3 linked regions of the Homo sapiens genome follow. The protein of the gene in region 1 interacts with the protein of each later gene in a pairwise test. Each region holds a gene or a part of one and is shown in the gene's direction. Other genes may lie near its edges.

Region 1 (7,027 bases):
CAGAGGCCAAGGCAGAAGGATTGCTTGAGCCAGGAGTTCAAGACCAACCTGGGCAACACAGCAAGACCCTGTCTCAAAAAAAAAAATTAATTAAAATTTTAAAACTACAATATTGACACATTTAAAATTTCTTAAATGTCTTAGGTCCTATTTCTTAGGGAGAAATTTGTTTTTTATCTCATTGGTGTTTTGGCAAAGTAAAAATTTTACTGTGACCTTCAGTCAATTTTAGGCCATAAAATAACCTATAACTTTCCTTGCAGTATTTCAAAATAACAATGTGTTGATATTTATTACTGTTTTCCCCTCTGCCTTCACATCTGTTTTATAATTGCACAATGGATAGGATGATACCATTGAAGGCTTGTTTTTGGACTAATTCTTTGCATGTATCATCCTTCATTTTCCCAGTACACGAAGGAGAGTGATTTCAGCATTAGAAGTTGGGATTTGTATAGTTCAAGGATTTTAGTATTTTTAAGGCTTTTTCATCATAGTTTTTAATTCTAGTCACCACACATCTCTAGCCCTAGCATTCTGTAACCAAGGAAACGCCCTACTTTTAGCATGGCACAGTACAAGTGTACCTTTTAAAGAAATATTCCAGGTTGAATACTCTGTGTATTCTGAGATAATATTCAAAAGAAGATCAGTGATCCTAGTGATTCAAAAAAGCCAAATTTTAACACATTAAAATTGCCTGAAAGTCTTAAGTATTTATTTTTAAAAGTCTTTATTTTTCCTAAATGATAAGCTGAAGCTGCCATTGCCATATATGGATGCATATACAGCTTAGGGAAACCAATGACTAAAATAAAATCCAACTGAAAAAATAAAGTTTAAATTTAAAAATTTCTGGCCAGGTACAGTGGCTCATGCCTGTAATCCTAGCACTTTGGGAGGCCAAGGCAGGAAGATTGCTTGAGGCCATGAGTTCAAGACCAGCCTAGGCAACATAGTGAGACCCTGTCTCTACAAAAAAAGTTTAAAAATTAGCCAGGCATGGTGGCATGCACTTTTAGTCCCAGCTACTCAGGAGGCTGAGATAGGAGGATTGCTTGAGCCCAGGAGTTCAAGGATGCAGTGAGCTATGATCATACCACTGCGCTCCAGCCTGGGCAACGGAGCGAGACACTGTCTCTTAAACAAAAAATCTGTGTTGCAAATGTATTTTTCAGGTGAGTTGACTAGCATTTATCTTAAGGAGTATCAACTACACTCAAAGCATTTAGATAGGCCAGTTTAGGTTAAGATACAAAGATGAGTAAGGTGTATCTATTGGGGGAACCAGCCCCCAATATTTCAATGTATGTTCTATTTTCCCTAAATGTCGGCCCATCTGAGAAATAGAGAAAGAGTACAAAAAGAGGAATTCTACAGCTGGGCCTCCAGGGGTGACATCACATATCGGTAGGTCCGTGATGTCCCCTGAGCCACAAAACCAGGAAGTTTTTATTAGGGATTTCAAAAGGGGAGGGAGTGTACAGGGAGTAGGTCACAAAGATCACGTGCTTTACAGGGCAATAAAGATCACAAGGCAAGGGCAAAGCAAAGATCACAAGGCAAAGGGCAAAATTAGAATTACTGATGAGGGTCTATGTTTGGCTGTGCACGTATTATCTTGATAAACACCTTAAACAACAGAAAACAGCGTTCGAGAGCAGAGAACCGGTCTGACCTCAAACTTACCAGGGCGGGATCTTTTCCGCACCCTAATAAGCCTGAGGGTACTGCAGGAGACCAGGGCGTATTTCAGTCCTTATCTCAACCGCATAAGACAGATACTCCCAGAGCGGCCATTTATAGACCTCCCCCCAGGAATGCAATTCCTTCCCCAGGGTATTACTATTTTTTTTTTTATTATACTTTAAGTTTTAGGGTACATGTACACATTGTGCAGGTTAGTTACATATGTATACATGTGCCATGCTGGTGCGCTGCACCCACTAACTCGTCATCTAGCATTAGGTATATCTCCCAATGCTATCCCTCCCCGCTCCCCCCACCCCACCACAGTCCCCAGAGTGTGATATTCCCCTTCCAGTGTCCATGTGATCTCATCGTTCAATTCCCACCTATGAGTGAGAATATGCAGTGTTTGGTTTTTGTTCTTGCGATAGTTTACTGAGAATGATGATTTCCAATTTCATCCATGTCACTACAAAGGACATGAACTCATCATTTTTTATGGCTGCATAGTATTCCATGGTGTATATGTGCCACATTTTCTTAATCCAGTCTATCATTGTTGGACATTTGGGTTGGTTCCAAGTCTTTGCTATTGTGAATAATGCCGCAATAAACATACATGTGCATGTGTCTTTATAGCAGCATGATTTATAGTCATTTGGGTATATACCCAGTAATGGGATGGCTGGGTCAAATGGAATTTCTAGTTCTAGATCCCTGAGGAATCGCCACACTGACTTCCACAATGGTGGAACTAGTTTACAGTCCCACCAACAGTGTAAAAGTGTTCCTATTTCTCCACATCCTCTCCAGCACCTGTTGTTTCCTGACTTTTTAATGATTGCCATTCTAACTGGTGTGAGATGGTATCTCATGTGGTTTTGATTTGCATTTCTCTGATGGCCAGTGATGATGAGCATTTTTTCATGTGTTTTTTGGCTGCATAAATGTCTTCTTTTGAGAAGTGTGTGTTCATGTCCTTCGCCCACTTTTTGATGGGGTTGTTTTTTTCTTGTAAATTTGTTTGAGTTCATTGTAGATTCTGGATATTAGCCCTTTGTCAGATGAGTAGGTTGCGAAAATTTTCTCCCATTTTGTAGGTTGCCTGTTCACTCTGATGGTAGTTTCTTTTGCTGTGCAGAAGCTCTTTAGTTTAATTAGATCCCATTTGTCAATTTTGTCTTTTGTTGCCATTGCTTTTGGTGTTTTGGACATGAAGTCCTTGCCCATGCCTATGTCCTGAATGGTAATGCCTAGGTTTTCTTCTAGGGTTTTTATGGTTTTAGGTCTAACATTTAAATCTTTAATCCATCTTGAATTGATTTTTGTCTAAGGTGTAAGGAAGGGATCCAGTTTCAGCTTTCTACATATGGCTAGCCAGTTTTCCCAGCACCATTTATTAAGTAGGGAATCCTTTCCCCATTGCTTGTTTTTCTCAGGTTTGTCAAAGATCAGATAGTTGTAGATATGCGGCATTATTTCTGAGGGCTCTGTTCTGTTCCAATGATCTATATCTCTGTTTTGGTACCAGTACCATGCTGTTTTGGTTACTGTAGCCTTGTAGTATAGTTTGAAGTCAGGTAGTGTGATGCCTCCAGCTTTGTTCTTTTGGCTTAGGATTGACTTGGCGATGCGGGCTCTTTCTTGGTTCCATATGAACTTTAAAGTAGTTTTTTCCAATTCTGTGAAGAAAGTCATTGGTAGCTTTATGGGGATGGCATTGAATCTGTAAATTACCTTGGGTAGTATGGCCATTTTCACGATATTGATTCTTCCTACCCATGAGCATGGAATGTTCTTCCATTTGTTTGTATCCTCTTTTATTTCCTTGAGCAGTGGTTTGTAGTTCTCCTTGAAGAGGTCCTTCACATCCCTTGTAAGTTGGATTCCTAGGTATTTTATTCTCTTTGAAGCAATTGTGAATAGGAATTCACTCATGATTTGGCTCTCTGTTTGTCTGTTGTTGGTGTATAAGAATGCTTGTGATTTTTGTACATTGATTTTGTATTCCCCAGGGTATTATTAATATTCCTTGCTGAGAAAAGAATTCAGTGATATCTCTCCTACTTGCACATCCGTTTATAGGCTCTCTGCAAGAAGAAGAATATGGCTCTATTCTGCCTGACCCTGCAGGCAGTCAGACCTTTGGTTGTCTTCTCTTGTTCTGTAAAATCACTGTTATTCTGTTTGTTTTCAAGGTGCACTGATTTCATATTGTTCAAACACCCATGTTTTACAATCAGACTTCATATTTTTCAAGCACACATGTTCTACAATCAGTTTGTACAATAGTGATCCTGAGGTGATGTACATTCTCAGCTTACAAAGATAACAGGATTAAGAGATTAAAGTAAAGACAGGCATAAGAAATTATGAGTATTATTTGGGAACTGATAAATGTCCATGAAATCTTCACAATTTATGTTTTTCTGCCACGGTGCCAGCCAGTCCCACCATTTGGGGTCCCTGACTTCCCACAACATATATCTGCTCAGGAGATAGATGGAGACAGATATGGAGGCAAATATAAGCTCTTCAGTGAAATAAGTGTTATAATGAAAGAATACTTAAAGATATTAGAAGTATAATAAAAAGTGTTGATGTGGGGGTGGAGTTTCCTATGAAGATCAGTTTTAAAAATGTAATTGGGATGTAAATTCTGTCTCTAAAATACCTTATGTTATGTTTAGCCATCAGAAAGGTTCAAGGTTATTTTTTTCTTTTAACTTTTATTATGAACATTTTGAAATGTATTCAGAAATAGCATTTAGTAAACCACCATGTACCCATCACTCAAGAAAGCTTTAAATCAATGAAAACCTGAAGCCCTTTTTAAAAACACGACTTTATTTATTTATTTATTTAATTTTTATAGACAGGGTCTCACTCTGTTGCCCAGACTGGAGTGCAGTGGCACAGTCATAGCTTACTGTAACCTTGAACTCCTGGCCTCAAGCAATCTTCCTGCCTTGGCCTCCCAAAGCACTGGGATTACAAGTGTAAGCCACCATGCCCAGCCCTATTTTATAGTATTTTATAGCTTGCCCTTTAAACATGAGCATGATATCTAGAGTAATAGTGGAGTGATACTAGTTGCTTTCAGAGCTGAGTATCAATTTGTTTAGATGCTGCAAGACATCCTGAAAAATTTGGCAATTTCAAATGGAAATATGAAATAAAGCTTTTTTGTATATTTAAATGAACTGTCAAGATAGTTTACTTTGAAGATTTGAGTTTCAAAAATGTATTATCTAAATCATGCATTTTCTTAGTTTTTTTTTTTTTTTTTTTTTTTTTTTTTTGAGACAGAGTCTCGCTCTATTGCCCAGGCTGGAGTGCAGTGTTGCAATCTTGGCTCACTGCAAGTTCCGCCTCCCAGGTTCACGCCATTCTCCTGCCTCAGCCTCCTGAGTAGCTGTGACTACAGGCGCCTGCCACTGCACCTGGCTAATTTTTTTTTGTATTTTTTAGTAGAGACGGGGTTTCATGGTGTTAGCCAGGATGGTCTCGATCTCCTGACCTTGTGATCCGCCCATCTCGGCCTCCCAAAGTGCTGGGATTACAGGCGTGAGCCACCGCACCTGGCCCTCTTAGTTTCTTATAATTCTTTATAATGGACTGCTTATACCAGAGCTCCTATTTTATCTCAAAGTTTGATTATTTTGTTCACGTTGTTCTTTAGATGCTATTAAACTACAGCTGGTTGAAGCAGGCCTAGTAGAGTGTCTACTAGAGATTGTTCAGCAAAAAGTGGATAGTGACAAAGAAGATGATATTACTGAGCTCAAAACTGGTTCAGATCTCATGGTTTTATTACTTCTTGGAGGTGAGTTGTAATTTATGCCAGCCAAAGAATGTGGTTGTCAGATGTTTTTAAAATTTATTGTCTCTTCTGTAAATACTACCCTAGACATTTTCTCATATTCCTATCTCACCTGCTATTGAGGTGATGATTTTGACATCTTAAACATGCCATTGATACAACCAGACATAATGAACCTGAAAAAGAAGTGTCTTCACTATCTTCCAGTATTTGAAGAGCTGTCACATAGAAGAGATAGCTTTGGCACCAAGGGACTAAAGAAAAGCTAGATGGCTCCCTGGGACTTGGACTAGAAAAAATGCTAGACTCTATTGTCTAGTATCTATTAAATGTTTATTATAAAAAGAATCATTACTTTTCCCATTATGAATGTAACAGTTTGTGAGGTGTGAGTTTCCAGTTGGATATTCACCTAAGAATGTGAATTTGTTACTCCTAGTTATTTTTCTCTTGCTTAACTATTCGTTTCATTTACCTCCAGATGAATCCATGCAGAAGTTATTTGAAGGAGGAAAAGGTAGTGTATTTCAAAGGGTACTCTCTTGGATCCCATCAAATAACCACCAGCTACAGCTTGCTGGAGCATTGGCAATTGCAAATTTTGCCAGAAATGGTAAGCATATTAGTTCCTCCTTTGTTAGTCAAATACTCTATATTTGTTTATTTTTGCTTTGCTACCACATATACTAAAACTGGAACAGTTTAGAAGTTGTGTAATATGTGTATATGCTGCTAACTTAATTTTTCAGAAATCTGAAATACTTAGTGACATTCCTAACAAATTACATATTTTATGCAATTCAACTAAATTCTAATAGTTTAAATATCATGAAGTGCTTCTTTTGAATACTTGGCACTTCAGAGCTTAGTAAGTTTGAATCCCATTCTAGTATACATCTGCTTTCTTTTGCCTAGTGATTTTATTTTGGATCTAATTATCTGAGTATTCATTCTAGGATTATTGTGCCTCAACTTATATACTTTTATGCCCATAAAACTTAAGTATGAATAATCCCCTGGCATCGTGTAGAATGTTTAATTTAGTTTAATAATGTTTCAGGGGGCGCCAGACTTCTATGTTTATGAAATCTGGCACTACCAAAAAACTCAAATACAGTCTAGAAACTCATTCTTACGTTCCTCATGAAATATACCGTGTCTAGGAAATACAGTTTATTTTTCTTTTTAGTTTAATCATCTTCCAGTACAAACTGTTGGTATATATTATATCATAATGGCTTACTTGCTCCATTTTTACTCCTTCTTTTTGGGAGTGACTTCCTAATTATGGAGGTAAGAGTGGCATAATATGGATAATTATTGAAACTAGATATGGGGTAAATAGTGGTTCATTATAATATTCTCTCCGCTTTGTAAGTGTTTGAAAAATAATTTAGGTATCAGCCATGATAGCAAAAGGTAGAGTACTATCACTGTAACATTGGGAGAACACAAGCATACATCACAATAAATGAAAAATATTGGACATTCTAACCATGTGTTTCTACTTCTGAT
Region 2 (7,027 bases), on another chromosome or scaffold:
TGCCAGACCCCGGGGTAGGCGCTTTCGGCCCCGGCTGCCTTTCTTCCTTTGGGACTAACAGCTATGTAGAAGAGGCAGCCCACCCCTAAGGTTCAGGCATCTGCTCAACTAAAGCAGCTGCGGTTCTGAGTTGGGTTAGAACATTGCAAGAGTTCATCAAGAGACGGGGGAGAGTTCGGAGGTCAGGGTGAGGTGAGTCCCAGAGGAGACCAAGAAGAAGTGATGTGAACTAGGTTTGGAGGGATGAGTAGGAGTTTGAAGAAGAGAGAAAGGACTTGAGATAGATAAAAACCAGTATGAATAAAGACTGGGAGGTGTTGTCACTTGTGAAGTATTCAGAGATGTGGCAGATCACAGAGGGCATTGAATGCCCTGTTAAGTACCTGTAATTTTACTCTGAGAACCCAGAGAGAAAACACCAAAGGTTTAAAGCTTGGATAGGGAGGGTGGAGTGTGCTGTGGTCAGGTTTATGTTTCCAGAAAATGCTCTGTGGCTATGGGAAAAGGATGGAGACAGGATGCCCAGTGGGGCAAGAGGGTGCAGGTAAGTAAGGTGAGAGAAGATGCTGGCTTTGATAGGTGGTAGCATGGTGCCATCTTGAAGGTACACTTGTCAGGACAGAATGATTTATTGGATGTGGGAGTGAAGGAGAGGAAGAGGAAGGAGTCCAGGTTCCTCGGAGTGGTTGAGCGGGCCTTCACTGAAGGCCCTGAAGCTTCACTGTGTTAGGGACTTGGTGAGGAGGGGCAGAGAATAAGCTCTTAGTTGGACATGTGGCCCTTGAGGTACTTGGGACATTGGAGGCTCAGTGGGGGAGGCACATCAAGGAGGGGCTTTGGTGTGAGGGTATGGGAGAGAAATGTCGGTCGGACCAAGAGAAGCGAGAGCTGTATGAGAGACCATAGAGCTGTGCACCTCGAGAGAAAGTAACCTCCGACAGTGGTGAAGAGCTCGAGTTTTATACTGCTAGGATTGGACTCTGTTTACTAGCAGCGTGACTTTAAGCAAGTGGCTTAACCTCTCTGAATCCGCTTCCTCATTTGTCAAATGATTATAATAAAAACCCGTGCCTTATAAGGGTTGTTATGAGGATTAAAGATAGTATGCATAAAGTGTGTGTAGCACAGGGCTTGGCATCTAGTGAGTACTGTTGTCTGTGTTTGCAGTTACTGTAATCATCCTCAACTGGGATGGTGTAAACCCACCCTCCCATCAGGGGTCACATGAGGTTGCCTTTAATGAGAAGATAGACTGCTAAGGTTAGGGTCCCTGTCTGCCTAAGGTTGCTGCAATTCTGAGCTGAGATTAGCAGGTCAAGGAGCTCAACAAAGGGGGTGCCTGCCCCTATTGTTATCGATGGGATTGTTTGTGTTGCTCAGGTGTTTGACCTTCAGGTGGGTGGGCTTGAGAAGACTAGAGGTGAGGCCTGCAGAAGAGACTCCATGTTTGGGGTAGGTGGAAGGGAATTTTGAGAAGGGGCAGCCTTGGGGTATTGAGTTCTCCATTTCCTCCCACCCTCCCTGGGCCCTGGGCTTCTACTGAGGCTCTTTCTGCCACCATCTGCCTCTGTGGTCCAGATGCACCATGTCTCTGTGTGACCGTGACTTCTAGGTCTGAGAACTCTGGTTTTAGCTCCTTAGCAGTATTTTAGCTGCTGTTTCTGGGGACTGTTCCTGGTGCAGCCACAGGGGCATTCTGGGGGTTGCTCCAGAGGGCAGCTGTGCCTGCATTCCCCTAGGTATCATCGACTTGCTCCTGACCCACTGCCGGGCCAGGTTTCAGGCCTGGCAGATGATGGGGAACCCTACTGGGGCCAGCCCTGCGTTGGCCCCAAGGGCTTTCTTTCTTGATATTGGACATGACTGTGGACTTCACCCCTTCTGAGGCCTTCCTGGGTGCCAAGCAGTGTGATTTCTTTCTTTTTCTCTTTGGTTTGAAACAGAATCTCACTCTGTTGCCCAGGCTGGAGTGTAGTGGTGCAGTCGTGGCTCACTGCAGCCTCCACCTCCTGGGCTCAAGTGATCCTCCCACCTCAGCCTCCTGAGTAACTGAGACTACAGGTGTAGTCCCACCTGGCTAATTTTTGTATTTTTTTAGAGACAGGGTTTTGTCATGTTGTCCAGGCTGCTCTTGAACTCCTGGCTCAAGTGATCCACCTGCCTTGGCCTCCCAAAGTGCCGGGATTACAGGGGTGAGCCACTGTGACTGGCCAGCAGTGTGATTTCTAACTTGGGTCCTGAACCATTCAGGCCCTTTCTGAGTAGCTTTCTAGTCAACCTTCCAGATGTCAGCTCTGGCTCTGTTCTGGGGGTGTATCTGGTTGTCCTGGTTGTTCTGGGCTCTGTCCCAGTGTGAGTGTAGAGTGGGTTCTGGGAGCTGCAGTTGGTGAATCTGAGTCTTTATTTGGTTGCCTGATAGGTTGTTTTGAGGTCAGTTTGATCCCAGACTGACGTGGTTCAAAGTTACTGTTTGGCTTTTCTAGGATCCTGCCCTCATGCTGTTCTGTGTGCCTCAGGGTCTTTGCAAATGTTTAGTCTTCTAAAATGGCCCCTGGCCACTTTGGGTACACACCTCTTTCCAGGTGTGGCTTCTGCTCCATGTAGGGCCTGTCTCAGTCTCCAAGCACGAGACCCTGCTGTGGCTGGGTGTGGCAGCAGCGCCTGGCCAGCTTGGGGGGCCTTTCCCATTACCCAGTTCCCTGCCTTGGACTCTGCCCCTCTGCCCAGGGTCTCTGCACAATGGTGCAGCCAAAAACCTCACTTGAATACTGTGAGGCCCTGCGGGCATCTCTAGACAAATGGGCCTTTAAGTTTGGGGCCTGGAAGCTGGTTTGTCTGGCCAGACCTGCTGGGCAGCCTGTATGCTGGGAGCAGCAGCTGCTGGAAACTCAGCTTGGGGAGCGGGGAGGGAAGCATGCAGAGAGGGCTGCGGGTTCTGGTGCAGGTAGGTGGGGCAGTGGAGGCTGGGTCGCCAAGCTGGCGAGGGCCATCTTGGGTCAGTTGGGATGGCCTTCAGTCGGTGAGAGTACCCCCATATTGGCAGAGGTGGTTAGTGCAACTTGAGGGTAATTCCCAGGTGCAGAGGTGTGTCCTTGATTTCATGATGAGGGTCAGTCTTGGGCCGGTGAGGACATTCCCACGCACCACCCTCCCACTGTGGTTTCTTTGTGTCCGTTATAGGAGGAGCCAAGGTGGCAGAGTGGTGTGGGGTGGGGATCACTGTGCATGTGGGGGCTTGAGGTGAGAAGCCTGCTGCAAGGTGCAGCTTGCGTCGAGTAGGCCAAACAGCTGAGCTTCCGTGAAGTGGTGATGAGGTGGTATGGGTGTGTCTGACCCCCACCCCCACCCAGGATGGTACCCACGCTGGTGGGGACTCAATAATGGCTCTAGAAGGAAGGGGCTGGGCTCTGTCGCTGCATGTGTGCCAGCGGAGGAGGCATCCAGGGGCACGCCTTCATTTTAAAAATTATAGAGTAGAGAAAGTCAAAAATAAATATTGCTTCTGAAGCTTCTTTGAAGACTGGCATGTATGTTGGGGTGTGTTCTTCCAGGCTGGGCTGTTTTCTTTGAACTCATTCATGCGTTCATCCACTCATTCAGTGTATGCTGACTGAGCACCTACTATGTGCCAGCTGTCAGCCAGGCGCTGGGGATACGGAAATGAGCTGGGCAGCCACAGTCCATGCTCCTATCAAGCTTATGGTAGTGACTCAGTAATTGTAAAAATATATAAATAGTCATGTTTGTGGTCACGGCTCCAAGCCAAGGTCCAGGCAGGTAGTCTGGGACATTGTGGAAGGCTTCCCTGAGAAAGTGCCACTGGACTTGAGATCCGAGGGTAAGTTGGCCAGAAGAGCATGGGTAGCCTGTGCCAGGCAGTGGCATTCAGCACTGGCAAGGCTGGGAGACAGGAAGAAATTTGGCACATTTGAGGATCAGAAGAGGAAGTTCCCGTTCTGGCAGGAGGAGAGCATGGGCAGGTAGGGCTGCAGAGGTGGGAGGGGCCGACTCTGCTTGGCTCTGGGGTCATGCTGAGGAGCTGGGCCACAGAGTCTACTGCTGAGGTCAGGGACTTGGTCTGTGTGGCTCACAGCTATATGGCTGGTGCCTGGAAGGACGCCCAGCACATAGTAGGTGCTTAGGGAGTATCAAAATGAATGAGCGAGGGAGTGAAGGGAAAAGATGGGCATTTTTACCAGATGGGGATGGTTCTACATGAACATTTCCATAACCTGCTTTTTTTTCTGCATAAACAGCAAATTTTTAATGTCTTTCTGTGTCAATACATATGCTGTTGTGATGAAATTCTTGATGTTTTCTCATGCTTTCCTTTCTGTCCAGGAAGGAGTGGAGGCCCTGGTGCCCGGCCCTTGGTGCTGAGTATCCAGCAAGAGTGACCGGGGTGAAGAAGCAAAGACTCGGTGAGTGTGCCCCACAGAGTGGCCAGGAGCAGGGGTGCACAGGGGTCCTATGGACCAGGCTGAGCAGCTTGGATTTGATGCAGGGTCAGTGGAGAGCTATAGAGGGGGTGTCAGCAGGGGGCATGACATGATCCAGTGTGCACTGGTGAGAGATTGTGGAGGCCTGGACCAGGGAGGCAGTGACAGAAGTGGAGAGAAGGGATGTGAGTGCTATTTAGGGAGGTAGAGTAGACAGGACGTGGTGAAGGATTGAATGTGGGGCATGAAGGAGGGGAGGTGTCAAGGATGGTGCCTGAGTTTCTGGCTGGAGTGGATGATAGAGGTGGATGGGGAATGACATACAGCTCGTCAGCTACTGTAGGTGTGAAATAGGCTTCCGGGTGATGTCCTGGGACTTACACCAGGATCTTTCTTCTGCTTCTCCATTCGCCACGTTTCTGTAGAAAAGACTGTTCCCATCGACTGTAGGTTGTCGTAGAAAGAGCTTGGTGCCTGCAGGATCTGGGCATGTCCTCTGCATCTCTTTGATGTCCCCTTGTTCTCCTCTCTGTCTGTTAGAAGCACAGAATGGGTGGGCTGGAGTTGCAGGGAATGAGGTTGGTAAGTTGGTTTAGAGTCAGCATCATGGGCCTTGGATGTCAGGCTAAAGACTTTAGACTTTTTCCTGAGGGCAATACAGCAGCATTGAAGGTTCTTAAGCAGAGAAGCAATATCCATGTGTTGATCTGTCCATTGCCCATCCGTTCATTCTTTCACGGAACACTGTCTGAATGCCTGCTGTGAAATAAAGTGGCAAACAAAAGTGCAGATTTGCATTTTTATGTGCTGAAAGGTGGCACTGGTCTGTGTGCGGGATGGGTTGGGAGTGATTGAAGGCAGGAAGCCCACCAAAGAGGCAGGAAGTGATGAGGTCTTACTAACACAGTGGCAGTGAGGATGGAGGCAGGTCAGATTCAAACTTATTGATGGGTTAGATGTGTGGGATGAGGACAAGGGAGCATTTAAGGAGGGTTTGCGGGCTTGGTGACTGACAACATGGTGGTGCTGTCCCCAAGACTGGACACCCTGGAGGAGGAGTGGAATTGGGGCAGATGAGTTCTGGTTGGGCCATCCTGAGCCAAGAGCTCGGTGGGTCTGTTCACCCTCTGTAAGCTCCTCGAAGGCAGAGCCTGTGACTCTCTTGTTCATCACCCTGCCCACTGAACATCTGGACGGGTGGCTGAACTAACAAGGCTGTGGAAGAGATGGGTCTGGCCTGGGTAGGGGAAGGAAATGTGTATGTCCTGGGTGTCTCCTGGGGTCCAGACCCTACGTTTGGTGAGATGGGCACTGGGGTTATGTAGAGGGTGCAGCAAGAGGGGCTGTGTCACAGGCTGGAAAGGTCAGATGGGGAGGGTGGGTGTAGGGACACTATGTGTCCCTTTGCCTCTCCATCCTCAGATGATGGTCTGACCTAACTCGAAGTCCAGTCTTGCCAGAATAGGTACCTGAAGGTGGAGCCCTCTGTCCTCTCGGGAGGCCACTAGCTGATGGCATGTCTGGTGGGGTGCAGATGGGGTGTGCTATAGGACCTGACTTCTGGAGGCTGGGTAGGGCTGATGTGGGGGTACAGGGGAAGATACTCTGAGATCCTGAGGCCAGGCGCCAGCAAATACAGGAGTTAAGCCAGGTTGGAGCTTCCTTGGGTACAAGGCCCAGGGTGCCCACAGGGGATTGGGTTCTGGGGCAGGGGCCAGGTCAGGCTCTAGGCTCAATTGGCAAAGGATCTTGTTGTCTGTGTTGGGGTTTCTCAGCCTCAGCACCATTGACATTTTGGATCAGATAACCCTTATTGTGGGGGCAGGGCTTGTTATTGTAGGGTGTCTAGCAGCATCCCTGGTTTCTTCCCCCTAGATGCCAGTAGCATCTCCCCGCTTTCCCCAGTCTCGACAATCAAAAATGTCTCCAGTCGTTGCGTAATGTCCCATGGGGGCAAAATTACCCTGAATTGAGAACCTCTGGTCTACAGCCTCTTGCTGCTTTCACTATACTGTACAAACCTGGAAAATTGGGGAGGGTCAGTGGGGAAGATGGATAGTGATGGGCCACTTGAGCAGAGTTCTGAGGGGTGAGTGAGTGCTGGGGCAGGAGAAGGACATTTTTTTCCAATAGACAGAACGGCAGGTACAGAGGCTTGGAGGCACAAAGTTGGGAAACAGTAATCCAAGGGGGACCCCAGCCCCAGAGGAAGGGGCCTGGAGGCTTAGGGGTTACAGCCGCAGGAAGATACCTCTGCTGGTCCCCTTTGGTCATTTGCCTCCAGAGTTAGTCTCCTGCTGACCCTTTGCCGCCTCCAAGTCTCTGCGACACTCCTCCTAATCTCCCCCTCCACTCCTCAGTGAGATGGAGAAACTGAGAGCTGCAACAGGGTGGGACTCAGTCCAGCTGGTGGGAGCCCCGATACCAGCCGTGGGAGGGAGGGCTGTTCCTGGCTCTGCTCACGGATTCTGGCCAACTGGCTGGAGGAGGGAAGGCGGCCTCACCCTCTTCCCCACAGGCCCCTCCTTCCCTGGGTCAGGGGTCCTGGCTGAGACTATAATTTATTCCCGTCATAATCCAGTGGTTGG
Region 3 (6,766 bases), on another chromosome or scaffold:
ATTTAGTCTAGGTCTGTCTCCCCTCACCCTCAATGTTTCTTGAAGGCAGGATCTGGCCTGAATCTTTTCTCTGTCCCCAGAACTCAGCACAGGGCCTGGCATGGGGTGGGTGGCAGGAGGGGGCTTGAGTGAGAGTACCTGTGATCTTATAGTCAACTCTGAGCTCATCTTACACAGTGGTGCTCAGTGTGGCTATGTATCAGGATTGTTTAGGAACTTACAAGCACTAATAACAAGTATTCATGTTCCACCTCTGGATGTTTTAATCTGGCATGGGGCCTAGGCCTAGGAAACCTGTAGTTTAAACCTGTCTCCTGGCCAGGCCTGGTGGCTGACACCTATAATCCCAGAACTTTGGGAGGCTGAGGCGGGCAGGTTGCAAGGTCAGGAGTTCAAGACCTGCCTAGCCAACATGGTGAAACCCCATCTCTACTAAAAGTACAAAAATTAGCAAGACATGGTGTAATCTCAGATACTCAGGAGGCTGAGGCAGGAGAATGGCTTGAACTCAGGAGGCGGACGTGGTTGCAGTGAACCAAGATCACCCCACTGCACTCCAGCCTGGGCAACAGAGTAAGACTCCATCTCAAAAAAAAAAATTGTCTCCTGATGACTCTGATGTGCAGAATCACTAAGCCTAGAAGTGCCTGGGCCACCAAATTGTATAGATGTGGCACTGTTAGATCCTCAGTGGCTTGGAGAGGTTACCTAACTTGATCAGGGTCACTCAACTCATCAATGGCAGGTCTGGGACTCCCAGCCCATCGTTCTGAGGTATTTTCCATGCCCAAACTAGGATGCAAGTTTGTTTAAAGTGGGGATGTCAAAAACTAGGATTTAACAGACTGTAAACCTAATAACACAACAGCTCAGCTAAGGGGAGTCATTTGCATGTGACCCCCTGATTGGTCAACACTGGTTGTACCCACAAAGTAGCTGGGCCTCTGGAGAGGGAGAGGCAGGTTCAAACCCTCAGGTTCTGCCCATGGGTCTCTGGGCTGTCCCTATTTGTTGCCAGGTGACTTATAGGAGTTTACTTCTGGGCCTCCCAGACGTGGAGAGTAAAAACAGGTGCCCTCGAGGGATATGGGGTGCTCCACCCTCTCCAGGGCCTCCCAAGGCCACTGGCTCACTGTGTAGCAGCAGGGCAAGGTGGAGGCTGTGGACCTCAACTTCCCCACCAATAAAATTGGACCTGAGAGCTTAGATCCCTCCAACCCCTTTTGGGCCTGGAGCCTGGATCTTGGCACTGCCTACCAGAAATCCCTATTGGATCACTGATGGGGAGGGAGCACCGTAGAGTTCACTGACTTACGACATTGCTTGTCTGAGCCTCTTGCATTGTCTTGGGACTATATGTTTTCCCTGACTTGAAACTGAACTCAGAGTTGGGCAACCTTAGTTCCAGTCTGGCCCTGTATTTGATTCACTGGAATGAATTCAATAAACATTTATTAGGTACCTGCCATGTTCCAGTCAGATCTGATTAGACCCAGTCTCTGCCCTCAAAGGCATCTCCAAGTCTGATGGGAGAGACACAGGGAAACAACGTGAAGACAGCATGATCGGTGCTGTGATGCAGGGACATCCAAGGGCTGTGAGTGTCCAGATGGGACCCCAACAGAACCTGAGGTTCAGGGAGAGTGATGCTTGAGTTGAGTCTGAAAGACAGGTTGAATGAGGTGAGAAGCATATCCCTAGCAAAGGAAAATGGCATGGAGATTTGAAATCACAAGGTGTGCTTGGAGACCTTCCCCTTACCACCAAACTTCTTGAAAGAGATGTCATGACATGGGGATTGCATCCTTCACCTCTCAGCCTTTCTTCAACCCTCCATAGCTTGGCTTTTCCTACTCAGCAACTCCTCTGAAAAGTTTTTTCAAGGTCACTCACAACTTCCAAGTTGCTAAAACCAGTGGCCTATTATCTTGGAATTGGCCAAAAGAATGGGCAGAAGAACACATTTAGAAGATAAAATCACGAGACCTGGTGGCTGATGTGTGGAAAGCAGATGTGTGAAGACAAGGGCAACAACCTGCTTTCTTTCCTTCTTTCTTTTTCTTTCTTTCTTTCTTTTTTTGAGACAGGATCTCCCTCTGTTGCCCAGGCTGGAGTGCAGTGGTGCAAACACTGCTCACTGCAGCCTCGATCTCCTGGGCTCAAGTGATCCTTCTGCCTCAGTTTCCCAAATAGCTGGGCCCACGGGCATGCATCACCACACTCAGCTAATTTTTTAATTTTTTGTAGAGACAGGTTCTTGCCATGTTGCCCAGACTGGTCTTGAACTCCTGCATTCAAGCAATCCTCCCGCCTCAGCCTCCCAAAGTGCTGGGATTACAGGCATAAGCCGCTGTGCCTAGCCTTTCTTGATTTGAGTGCATGGTGATGGCATGTACTGAGAGAAGCATTTATGGGGCTGGGTACTTTGGGAGGCCAAGGCGGGCAGATCACCTGAGGTCAGGAGTTCAAGACCAGCCTGGCGAACATGGTGAAACCCTGTCTCTACTAAAAATACAGAAAAATTAGCCAGGCGTGGTGGCAGGAACCTGTAATCTCAGTTACCTGGGAGGCTGAGGCAGGAGAATCGCTTGAACCCGGGAGGCGGAGGTTGCAGTGAGCTGATACCATGCCATTGCACTCCAGCCTGGACAACAAGAATGAAACTCTGTCTCAAAAAAAAAAAAAAGATTTATGGGAAAAGCAACAGTTTTAGCAGATGGAGAAATGTTGCAATCATCTTGAGATGAGTGGAGTTTGAGACACCTGGACTTCTAAGGGGAGCTGGACTGTTCAGGTGTGAATCCCAGTTAGAGAGAGATACAGGGTGGAATGGGGCTAAGAGGAAAGATCCAGAAGAGAAGGGGATCCTGACCCCTCTCCAGGTCTGCTCCCCCATGGGTAAAATGAGGGGTTTGGAGTTTCCATTTAATTCAGCACATAGTTCTTGGTTCCTGGTATGCACTTGGCCCTGCTGGTGACACAAACAAATCAGAGTCCTTGTCTACAAGCAGCTCACATTTGGGCTGCAAGAAAGGCCAGGAGAAAGGATAGCAACAAGAGGCACAAGCAAGATCCACAGAATTCAGGGAAAAAAAAAATTCTTCCTGAGACCAGGAGAGCTTCCTGGAGTGGAGTGGGTGACCGTTGAGCTAGGCTTTGAAGGGTTGGCAGAAATCTAATGGGAGAGAGGGGAGGGCAGGGAATGCATTCCAGAGAGAACACTGACCATTCTCTGAGCCTCAGTCCCCAACCCTATGGTCATGTGGAGCTAATACCTGCTTTAAGGATTAGAGGTGGTGTAACACACGTGATCACTTCCTTCAGGACCTGGTACATAGTAGGTGCTCAATAATCGTTACAGCCTAGTGCAGCCTAACAATTTTGGGTCAATGATGGACCACATATACAAAGGTGGTTCCATAAGATTATAATGGAGCTGAAAATTTCCTATCACCTAGTGATGTTGTAGCCATGATAATGTCGTAGGGCAATGCATTACATTTTCTACATTTATATATGATTAGTTAGATAACAAATACCATTGTGTTACAATTGCCTACAGTATTCAGGGCAGTAGCCTGCTGAACAGGTTTGTTGGCTTGGAGCAATAGGATATACCATATACTCTAGGTGTGTGCCACCTAGGTTTGTTTGTAAGTACACTCTATGATATTCACATAACTAAAATTGCCTAAGGACGCATTTCTCAGACTGTATCCCTGTTGTTTAAAAGACGCATAACTGTATTTTAGTTACTTCTCATCCCTATCCTTCCTTTCCCTTCCTTCCTCCCCAACCCCTGTTTATTTCCTGGGCCTGGGGCTTGGCCATGTTCCCCTCCTTGTGACTAGTAGAGCTGGGTCTTTCAAGTGGCATTATTGTAGAGCTGCTAGCAAATATTAGACTACCTATAAGGAGAAATTGGGAGCCATAGAGAATTTTTTGAGCTAGGTGGGAGGCCAGAGTTGGAGAATGGGTGTCACTGGGAGCTGGATGTAGGGCAGAAGTTTTAGAGGACCGTGGACCTTGTGGGGAGGGCAGGGCCTTTCTCCAAGAGCTTGCTAGTGGCTGGAGGCCCATTTCTAAACTTGGGGAGGTGGCTCCATGGATCCCAGAGAGGCCTGTGCCAGGCGTGGGGGTAGGGGACCAAATCCGGGCCAGGGAGTTCCTGGGCACCTGACATGGTTGGATTCCCCAGGTGCGCGTCTACAGCCCGTACCAAGACTACTACGAGGTGGTGCCCCCCAATGCACACGAGGCCACGTATGTCCGCAGCTACTACGGACCGCCCTACGCAGGTAAGTCTCCAGCGTGCCCCGGGGCTTGCCTCGATCCAGCACCGATTCAGCGCCAGGCCCAGCCCACGGTCCGTAAGTCCGGACCAGGCTTCATCCTTTTAGCGTGCACGGATTTTCCCAGGCAGAACTCTCCGCAAGCCCCTCTCCATCCTGAGACTGGGAGAGCTCTGGAACCAGCGTTCGTCTCGAGCTGACCTCACCCTTCTGGGATGGCTCCTCAGCCCTGCGGTCGGCAATACCCATTCCTGAGCCGGTAGCGGCCCCTGGTGGCTACTGCGGGAATGCTGCCTCCTCCCCGCTCTGGGGCCTGGCGGTTGGGAATGCCCATCGTTAGGCGCCTGGTGGTTGTGCTTAGCGATCTCAGGGTTTCCTCGCTGCTCCGCCCTAGCCTGCCGTAGCGGACCCGTAGGTTCCGGGACATCCGTAGCCGATCCAAGGCCTGGGAGCCGTAGGGTGGAGCTCTTCCCGCGTCTAGATCTGTTCTTTGACTGGGGAGCAGGAGAGTGGGTTCGGCGCCTTACACTGGGTTGGGCTGGAGTGATGCAGGAAGGGTACGAAGATCACTCTACTCCCTCCTAAGTCGCTGATCCTCATGGGCTGTCTCCCTCTGCAGGCCCTGGCGTGACGCACGTGATAGTGCGGGAGGATCCCTGCTACAGCGCCGGCGCCCCTCTGGCCATGGGCATGCTTGCGGGAGCCGCCACTGGGGCGGCGCTGGGCTCGCTCATGTGGTCGCCCTGCTGGTTCTGAGCCCTGGGACTCGGAGCACTGACCCCTGCGCTTGGATTGCTAGACTCCTCTTCCTCCTGGACCCCATCCTCTACCATCCAAGCCCTGTCCCACTTTGGCCCTATCCTCTCCATTAGCTCCTTCCGGGTTTGGACCATTCCCCCCACTCCCTACCCTTAATCCCCACATGGGAAGAAGCTATCATCACAGGTACAAACATCGCTTGAAGTCTTCACATCTACCACTAGACACCCCCAAAATCTGTTATAGACATTTATGGATACATTTCCTCTAAACACAACAGGGCACAGCAAATACGACTTCATTTGGCTTCGAGTTCCCCAGGCGCTGTAGACACAACATGAATCGGGCTCTCTGCTCTCTCCTTAGGGAGCTCGAGTCCTGGTGGGGAGAACAGGAGTAAACAAGGACTTGACAAAGCTGAAGAGTTATCAGTCCTTTGACAAGGACAGGTGGGGCAGGGAGCAAGACAGGTAGGCTGGAAGAACAGTTATTGGCAAGTATGCAGAGCCGTGAACGTCATGGCATGTCCAAGGAATTAAATGGGAGTTCATTTGGGCTGGGGTGGAGGCTGGGATCAGACCGTGGTGGGCCTTCAAGCTAAGGAGCTTCCTAGGTGAAAGGGGAGATGTGAGCCTTCTCTGGAGGGAAGTTTCATGATTGCATCTATAATGAATATATTGCCTGTTTTGTGAATACTGACACATGTCCATACCTAAAACACTCCTGAGTCAAGTCCCATCCTTCCCACAAACAGCTTCCTGGCTGGTACCCATGATAACAATTGAGCTGAACCTGGGGACCCCTGGTTGGGGAACAGGTGAGTTCTATTTGAGACTTCCAGCCCTAGAAAGCTGCCTCCGTCCAGAAATGCCTCTCACACCAGGAGCTCGGCCCTCTCTTTGTAGCTGTGACTGTCACCCTCTCAGGCTTTGTCTCATCCTTCATTCTGAATAAGATGGCAGTGTTCTCCTCTGGGGCCTGATCCACCTCTACACCAGCCCAGGAAGCCCCATCTGTGCCTGCCCTCAGGTGGTCCACCAGTCTCCCCCTTTGGTTCCCTTCCAGTCTCTTCCCCCTTTCTATCCCAATCACCAATAGAAATGCTAACATCCCTGCCTGGTAGCCAGACTAGCCCACTAAAGCTCCCCTGTAAATGGGGGCTCCATTAGTTCTGCTGCCGAGACTAATAAAGATTTGGTTGGCTCTAGCAGTAACTGTGGCTTGCTTTGTTCCCCCAGAAGGCCCTGTTTCCCTCTCCATGATCCAGCAGCTACTAGTGCCTTCACTGGTCTAGTGAAAAAGAGTGTGGATTCTGAGATCAGTTGGAACTGGTGACAGCATATTAGCTGAGTCATTTGGGGCAAGTCACTTAACCTTTCTGGATTTTGTTTTCCCTACACTTAAGGTAGCTGGTTGAAGTTGACCATTCCTGAGGGCTCAAGAGGAGGGACTGCCTTGGAGTCTCTGTTGTCTGAGCTGATGGATGATCCAAGCCAGGTCCTGCCTGCTTTCTGAGAATCCTGTTCATGTTGGAGTCTTTTCCAGTAGGTTCCCATCCTTCTAGAGTTGAATCAATGAATTGTTCTCATAGAAAACCAGGTGGTCAGGAAAGGAAACACCATCATCCTGCATCAGGCTTCTTGGGGCTGTCAGATAGAAACTCCCTGTTCAAACTGATTTAAGCCAAAGGGAAAAGGTTAAGCCACATAACTGAG

What was found.
Region 2: the proteins of RAP1GDS1 (region 1) and PTPRF interact in a two-hybrid assay, tested with the Homo sapiens proteins (one study listed by BioGRID).
Region 3: the proteins of RAP1GDS1 (region 1) and PLEKHB1 interact in binary tests that used the Homo sapiens proteins (3 or more experiments, as listed by UniProt).

The regions. Positions count from the first base shown.
Region 1 is NC_000004.12:98,411,374-98,418,400, forward strand, and holds part of RAP1GDS1 (rap1 GTPase-GDP dissociation stimulator 1), read left to right. Parts: intron 1-5,371; coding exon 5,372-5,515; intron 5,516-5,993; coding exon 5,994-6,125; intron 6,126-7,027. UniProt on the Homo sapiens protein: Acts as a GEF (guanine nucleotide exchange factor) for the Rho family of small GTP-binding proteins (G proteins) that stimulates the dissociation of GDP to enable subsequent binding of GTP.
Region 2 is NC_000001.11:43,533,857-43,540,883, forward strand, and holds part of PTPRF (receptor-type tyrosine-protein phosphatase F isoform 1 precursor), read left to right. Parts: intron 1-4,341; 5' UTR 4,342-4,421; intron 4,422-7,027. UniProt on the Homo sapiens protein: Possible cell adhesion receptor. It possesses an intrinsic protein tyrosine phosphatase activity (PTPase) and dephosphorylates EPHA2 regulating its activity.
Region 3 is NC_000011.10:73,656,555-73,663,320, forward strand, and holds the end of PLEKHB1 (pleckstrin homology domain-containing family B member 1), read left to right. Parts: intron 1-4,198; coding exon 4,199-4,298; intron 4,299-4,911; coding exon 4,912-5,048; 3' UTR 5,049-6,265; downstream 6,266-6,766.